Linked DNA regions of Homo sapiens. The protein of the gene in region 1 purifies or fractionates together with the protein of each later gene. This does not show direct contact. Each region holds a gene or a part of one and is shown in the gene's direction. Other genes may lie near its edges.

Region 1 (3,500 bases):
TAAAAATACAGAAATTAGCTGTGCGCGATGTCAGGCGCCTGTAGTCCCAGCTACTAGGGAGTCTGAGGCAAGAGAATCGCTTGAACCCGGGAGTGGAGCTTGCAGTGAGCCAAGATCGCGCCACTGCACTCCAGCCTGGGCAACAGAGTGAGACTCTGTCTCAAACAAACAAAAATATATATCTATATCTATATCTAGATAGATATAGATATAGATCTATATAGATTATATATATAATAAACATTGAAGTTTGACATACAAAAATGTGTACACACTTCTTTAGATGTGCTGTTGATGAATTTTCATATGACGAGCAAACCCGTGTGACTAGCTCCCAAATTAAGGAGCGTACTCTGTGGCCGTGGCGGCCTACCCGGGGCACACTGCTGACCCCTAGTGTGCCACGGTGGTGCTGCCTGGTTTGAACTGAGGTGGGTGGGTCCTGCTGTGCAGGTGTCTAGTGCGAGTGTCTGGCTTGCGTTCTGGTGTCCGCTGCACCGCCATGCGTGTCTGTGTGTAGTTTACCCCTGTGAGGCATTTACGGTGTCTCCTATTGGGAGCTCTTGTGATGCCCTGAGGAGTTGGACAGGCGTTGGCAGGGGGTGGTTTCTGCTGGGTGCGTGCCTGTGTGGAGTGGCCGGGCCCCAGGGTGCGTGTGCTCCGCTCTGGAGCTGCCATGTGGGTGCAGTGGTGCACATGCCGGCCCGCATCCCCGGTAGCATTGGGTATCGTGTCTTTTCCGCTGGAGCCATTCTGATGAGTGCTTGGTGATATCTCATGAGTTTTTGGTATTAATAGACTTACTTTTTTTTTTTTTTTTTGAGATGGAGTCTTACTCTGTCACCCAGGCTGGGGTGCAATGGTTCAATCTCAGCTCACTGCAACCTCCACCTCCCAGATTCAAGCAAGTCTCCTGCCTCAGCCTCCTAAGTAACTGGGATTACAGGCGCCCACCACCAAGCCTGGCTAATTTTTTGTGTGTGTTTTCAGTAGAGGTGGGGGTCTCACCATGTTGGCCAGGCTGGTCTCGAACTCCTGACCTCAAATGATCCACCTGCCTCGGCCTCCCAAAGTGCTGGGATGACAGTTGTGAGCCAGTGTGCCCAGCCGGACTTATGTGTTTGAGCAGTTTTAAGTCTACAGAACAACAGACTGGAAAGTGCAGCGCCCCCGCCCCCCTCACCGTCCAGCTAGGTTCACGTGACTGACGTCTCGCACTAGTGTGGCGGTCCTTGTGTTTTAAGTGTCACCTCGATGGAGGTAGTGGACATGCAGGAAGATTCACTCTCTTTTTATTTTCTCGAGGCGGAGTCTTGCTCGGTCGCCAGGCTGGAGTGCAGTGGCGCAATCTCGGCTCAACTGCAACCTCTGACTCCCTGGTTCAAGTGATTCTCCTGCCTCAGCCTCCCAAGTAGCTGGGATTACAGGCACACACCACCATGCTCAGCTAATTTTTGTATTTTTAGTAGAGATGGGATTTCACCATGTTGGCCAGGAGGGTCTCGATCTCCTGACCTCGTGATCTGCCCACCTCGGCCTCCCAAAGTGCTGGGATTACAGGTGTGAGCCACCGTGCCCGGCTGATTGACTCTTTTTAGGGTGCAGGTCATGGGCTTGCTGTGTAACCACCACAGTCAAACAGAACACACAGCTTCATCCCCCAGAGGGTCCCCATGTGCCCCTTTGTCATCAGCCAAATCTCCACACCCCCAGCCCCTGGCAACACTGAGCTGTTCCCTGGCCTAAAAGTTTGCCTTTTCTGAGTTTCCTGTAAACAGAATGACACTGTTTGTAGCATTCAGAGTCCAGCTTCCTCTGCTCAGCATGGTGCGTTTGAGTCCCATCCGTGTCATGGTGGGTGTCAGTAGTCATCCCTTTTTCCTGCTGACTAATATTCCCTTATTCGAATGGACCACAGTTTGTATCCATTCGCTTGTTGAAGGACATTTGGGTTGTTTTTCCATTTTTGGGTTGTGGATAAACCTGCTGTAAACATTGGCATACAGGTTTTTCATGAACACGTTTTCATTCCTCTTGGTAAGTGAATACCTAGGGGTGCAGTTAATCCCCAGGTCACACAGTAAGTGTCTATTTAACTTATGAGAACGGGGAAAATGGCATTTTTAATCTCTTCCAGAATGTGTTCATTACTTGTAGCTGTGGACTTAAGTGGCTAAAGATGGTGCATGTAGGGTGTGTGCAGAGAACAAGGGGGTATTAGTTGGCAGCACCCCGCTGTCCATGAAGACTTGAGGTGGGGACTGGGAAGGAGATGGCACCCCTGTGCTCTGCGCATACAGCTTCATCCCTGGACAAGGCGCGCGGCCACCACAGCAAGGAAATGGCCCTTTCAGTGCTAGGAAGTGTCGCGTTCGGCAGGAGACTGGGATGGAGCGGGGCCTGGGGGTGAAGAGGGTCCTCATGAGCCGCGTGTGTGGGGTGAGGGCCTCTGGGGAGCACCTGCTGCTGTGAACATGTGTTCCTGTCTCCACCCTGCAGTGCGGCATCGTCCTGGGGGCGCTGCTCTTGGTCTTCTGCTCATGGATGACGCACCAGTCGTGCATGTTCTTGGTGAAGTCGGCCAGCCTGAGCAAGCGGAGGACCTACGCCGGCCTGGGTGAGGCGCCCTCTCCACAAGGTGGCTCTGGACCTGGGGCGGGGGCCTTATTCCATTTATTTATTTATTTATTTACTCTACTTGATTCTTCAAGAATTCCTTGGATAGCAGGGTTTTTTTTATTTTAAAATGTAATGCTGCAAAAAAATGAGCCGGGTGTGGTTGCACGTGCCTGTCGTCCCAGCTACTATTTGGGAGGCTGAGGTGGGAGGATCACCTGAGCCTAGGAGTCTGAGGTGGCAGTGAGCTGTGATCACGCCATTGTATTCCAGCCTGGGTGACAGAGCGAGACCCTGTCTCAAAAGAATTAAAAATCAAATTAAAAAAAAATGCAGTTAAAAAAAAAACCTGCCGGGCGTGGTGGCTCGTGCCTGTAATCCCAGCACTTTGGCAGGCCGAGGCAGGCGGATTATTTGAGGTCAGGAGTTCGAGACGAGCCTGGACAACATGGTGAAACCCCATCTCTACCAGAAATACAAAAAATTAGCCAGACATGGTGGCAGGCATCTGTAATCCTAGCTACTCAGGAGGCTGAGGCCAGAGAATCTCTTGAACCCGATAGGTGGAGGCTGCAGTGAGCTGAGATCACGCCACTGCACTCGAGCCTTGGTGCCAGAGTGAGACTCTGTCTGGAAAAAAAAAGAAAAACCTGTTATAATCACATGCTTCAAAATTGGAGTGACACAGAAGGGTATGAGGCGCCAGGTCTCCCTGTCACCATGCCCTCCTGCCCGCTCCCATGCAGGTCCACACAAGCTTCCTCTTCTAAACTCAGACCAAGACAGCCGTCCTCACCGTGCTGGTGCAGACCTGCTCTCTCTGTGTCTCTCCTGGACACCAGATGCCTTCCTGCGGAGCTGCCTGCAGAGAGCCTTGCTGTTCT
Region 2 (3,500 bases), on another chromosome or scaffold:
CTTGCTGTTAAAATGAAAAGTATATTAAAAATTTTAAAAACCAAAAGAAAATAAAAATTTAAAAAATTCAACTTCTAAATTATTCTGTTTAATCCTATAATTGTATTAGCCATTCTTAGCAGCTGCTACTGTTAGATCGAAGGTTTTCCCTGTCATTTCAGGCTTAGGGTAAAAAAAAAAATTAAGTGCTAGTCGATCTGAATATTTTGGTGTTGGGATTGGGCCATAATCCCAAGTGTTAAAATCCTGAAATCCTAAAAACCACAATTCTAAAAGATCAAAATCTTAAAAATATAATCCTGGAAAAAGTAATTTTAAAAAATTATTTGAAAGATATTACTTTACATTTTTAAAAGGGAATGTATTTGAGAAACATGTAAAAACATGACAGCACTTCATAGGCCACTTTACACAATAAAATAGGCAATAATAACATGCTTTTGCAAGCATAAACAGTTATAAAAATGACAGTTACATGTGTAAAACAGGAGCAGACAAACTGTATTCATAAATCAGAAAGCAAAATGTGTAAGTGCATGTCACTATGGTTAGTAGTTGTGTGCCACTCTGCTTTATAACTGCGCTCATCTGAAATAACCATGACAGACAACCTAAGTCTTGAGGAAATTGATAAAAAACGGCAATGGGTCACTACAACATATGCAGTCACCCAAAGAACTGAGATCACAAGAAATTTTATGTTTCACAGATGCAGATGTACAGAAAGGACCTTTCTTGTGTACATGCAGTGTTTACACACACAGTTAATGCTGTGTGTAATGTACTTTTGCAGAGTCAAATTTCTGATGTTCAAGGCCGCAGAAGAAAAGTCTGTCCACCTTTCAGAGAGAGACCAATTTGCCTTATGTATTTGTTCTCTCAGAGCCCCTGGTCAATTGGATGGTGCCCGCCAACACTGAGGGCAGGTCTTCCCCACATAGTCTACTTGGACTGACTAATCTTTCCTGGAAACACCCTTACAGACACATGCAAAATAATGCTTTACTGTGTGTTGTTACTTAATTATTTAAAAGAAGTATAGCACTCTAGTACTTTTTTTTTTTTTTTTGAGACAGAGTCTTGGCTCTGTCACCCAGGCTGGAGTGCAGTGGCATGGTCTTGACTCACTACAACTCTACCTCTCAGGTTCAAGCAGTTCTCCTGCCTCAGCCTCCCGCGTAGCTGGGACTACAGGTGCGCCACCACACCCAGCTAATTTTTGTATTTTTAGTAGAGACAGGGTTTCACCACGTTGACCAGGCTGGTCACGAACTCCTGACCTCAAGTGATCTGCCGGCCTCGGCCTCCCAAAGTGCTAGGATTACAGGCATGAACCACCACATGCAGCCTAGCCTCATAACAATCTTATATAAATAAGATCTTTACAAAAGAAAACAAGTTAGAAAGCTAACTTTAATAATTATCTTACATGATCATTTATAGAGTCTTGTCAGGGCTGGAATTAGAACCGTGATCTGTTGACCTCTAATTTAGTTTTCTTTTCATTCTATGGTCCTGGGAGAAAATTTGTCTTTATAAGTATTTGACATATGAGTTGGTGTGATAGATTACATTTCCTGTTCCTAATGCACTTTTTCTCATTAAATGAAGGGAACTCAAAAAATAAAAGCTTTAATAAGACTGAATTTCATTCTAGGAGAATGGCCACCAGTCCTTACTGAGCAGCGATGATCAACTTTTTATTTATGAGACAGCTGGAGTGCTGATTGTTAATAGTGAATATCCGGCAGAAAGGAAACAAGCCTTAATGAGGAATCTGTTGACTCCACTAATGGAGAAGTTTAAAATTCTGTTAGAAAAGTTGATGCTGGCACAAGATGAAGAAAGGCAAGCCTCTCTAGCAGACTGTCTTAACCATGCTGTTGGATTTGCAAGGTAAGTGTGATCACAGTTAAAATTATAAAGTGCATGTATCTACACAGACAGAACCACTTGTTTGGTGGGCACACACATTTGTGTTTCCACAGTTGGATAATCCAGAGAATTGTCTAAATCTTTGTCCTCCAAATCCAGTCAGTTAGATTTGGTTGAAGAAGGGGATAGGTTACATACCATTTACATTTTTGCCTTGACAACTGTAAATCTTTAACTCCTCTGACTTCTCTGATATAAATGGGTTGTGTGTTTAAGAGGATCAGCTGAAGTGTTAATATACCAAATATATATTGGGACGGGACATCTTTGGTTAGTCTTGGTTACCTTAAAGAGAAGAGCGTGAGGTTTCTCTTCAGTTGTATTGTGTCCTGAAGATCACCCAAGCAGCTGTTTTTTCCGCCTCTAGCCATACTTTTTGTTGACAAACAACAGCATGAAAGTTGTAAAGATTGCTAATTTAGAAGTTAAATTGTTCTATAATATATTTAAGAACAAGAGCTAGATATTAGAGAGGTTGTATAAAGAATTCTGAAGATGGTTTTCTAAATTTAAATGGGTGGTTTGCAGGTTACCTAGTACAGGCCTAGTCATAATAAGTGGATTTATTTTCTCTTTTCTGTCCACTTTGTCAGTAGGATTTTTCTCTTTTTTTTCTTTTTTCTTTTTTTTGTGGGGGAGACACAGTCTTGCTTTGTCACTCAGGCTGGAGTGCAGTGTTGTGATCTCAGCTCAGTGCAACCTCCGCCTCCCAGGCTCAAGCAATTCTTGTGCCTCAGCCTCCAAGTAGCTGGGATTGCAGGCATGTGCTACCACACCCAGCTAATTTTTCTATTTTTAGTAAAGACCGGTTTTGACCATGTTGTCCAGACTGGTCTTGAACTCCTGGCCTCAAGTGATTTGCCTGCCTTAGCCTCCCAAAGTGCTGGAATTAGAAGCATGAGCCACAATACCCAGCCCAGTCAATAGGATTTTAATAAAACATTTAGGTAGACTCACATTAGAAGGATTATATTAACTACATGTCATTCATTTAAGTTAATTTGAGCTCTTTTGTTCTGGAAAGATCATTGGAAGCAGTAGTTTACAAATAGCCATATTAGCTAAAGATGGAAGTAATTGTGATGTGGAAAATAAAGGTCTGGTTATTTAGTTTTGTTAATTTTGTAATTTGTTGTGCATTGCTTTTGAATACTCCATAACACTTTTAAAGAATAAAGTTGCATCTGATTGCCTGATTTTTGCTTATATAGTCGAACCAGTAAAGCTTTCAGCAACAAACAGACTGTGAAACAATGTGGCTGTTCCGAAGTTTATCTGGACTGTTTACAGACATTCTTGCCAGCCCTCAGTTGTCCCTTACAAAAGGATATTCTCAGAAGTGGAGTCCGTACTTTCCTTCATCGAATGATTATTTGCCTGGAGGAAGAAGTTCTTCCGTTCATTCCATCTGCTTCAGAACATATGCTCAAAGATTGTGAAGCAAAAGATCTCCAGGAGTTCATTCCTCTTATCAACCAGATTACGGCCAAATTCAAGGTACCGCAAACTTTCAGAGCTCTGAAAATCTCTTGAAGATCAGATGTATTTATCTTCAGACATGTTTC

What was found. The genes of interacting proteins can lie anywhere in the genome.
Region 2: the proteins of SLC38A10 (region 1) and XPOT purify together in Homo sapiens (affinity purification with mass spectrometry; one large-scale study listed by BioGRID and IntAct). This does not show direct contact.

The regions. Positions count from the first base shown.
Region 1 is NC_000017.11:81,288,808-81,292,307, reverse strand, and holds part of SLC38A10 (solute carrier family 38 member 10), read left to right. Parts: intron 1-2,499; coding exon 2,500-2,617; coding exon of another isoform or gene 2,618-2,638; intron 2,639-3,500. UniProt on the Homo sapiens protein: Facilitates bidirectional transport of amino acids. May act as a glutamate sensor that regulates glutamate-glutamine cycle and mTOR signaling in the brain. The transport mechanism remains to be elucidated.
Region 2 is NC_000012.12:64,428,392-64,431,891, forward strand, and holds part of XPOT (exportin-T), read left to right. Parts: intron 1-1,657; coding exon 1,658-1,896; intron 1,897-3,146; coding exon 3,147-3,432; intron 3,433-3,500. UniProt on the Homo sapiens protein: Mediates the nuclear export of aminoacylated tRNAs. In the nucleus binds to tRNA and to the GTPase Ran in its active GTP-bound form. Docking of this trimeric complex to the nuclear pore complex (NPC) is mediated through binding to nucleoporins.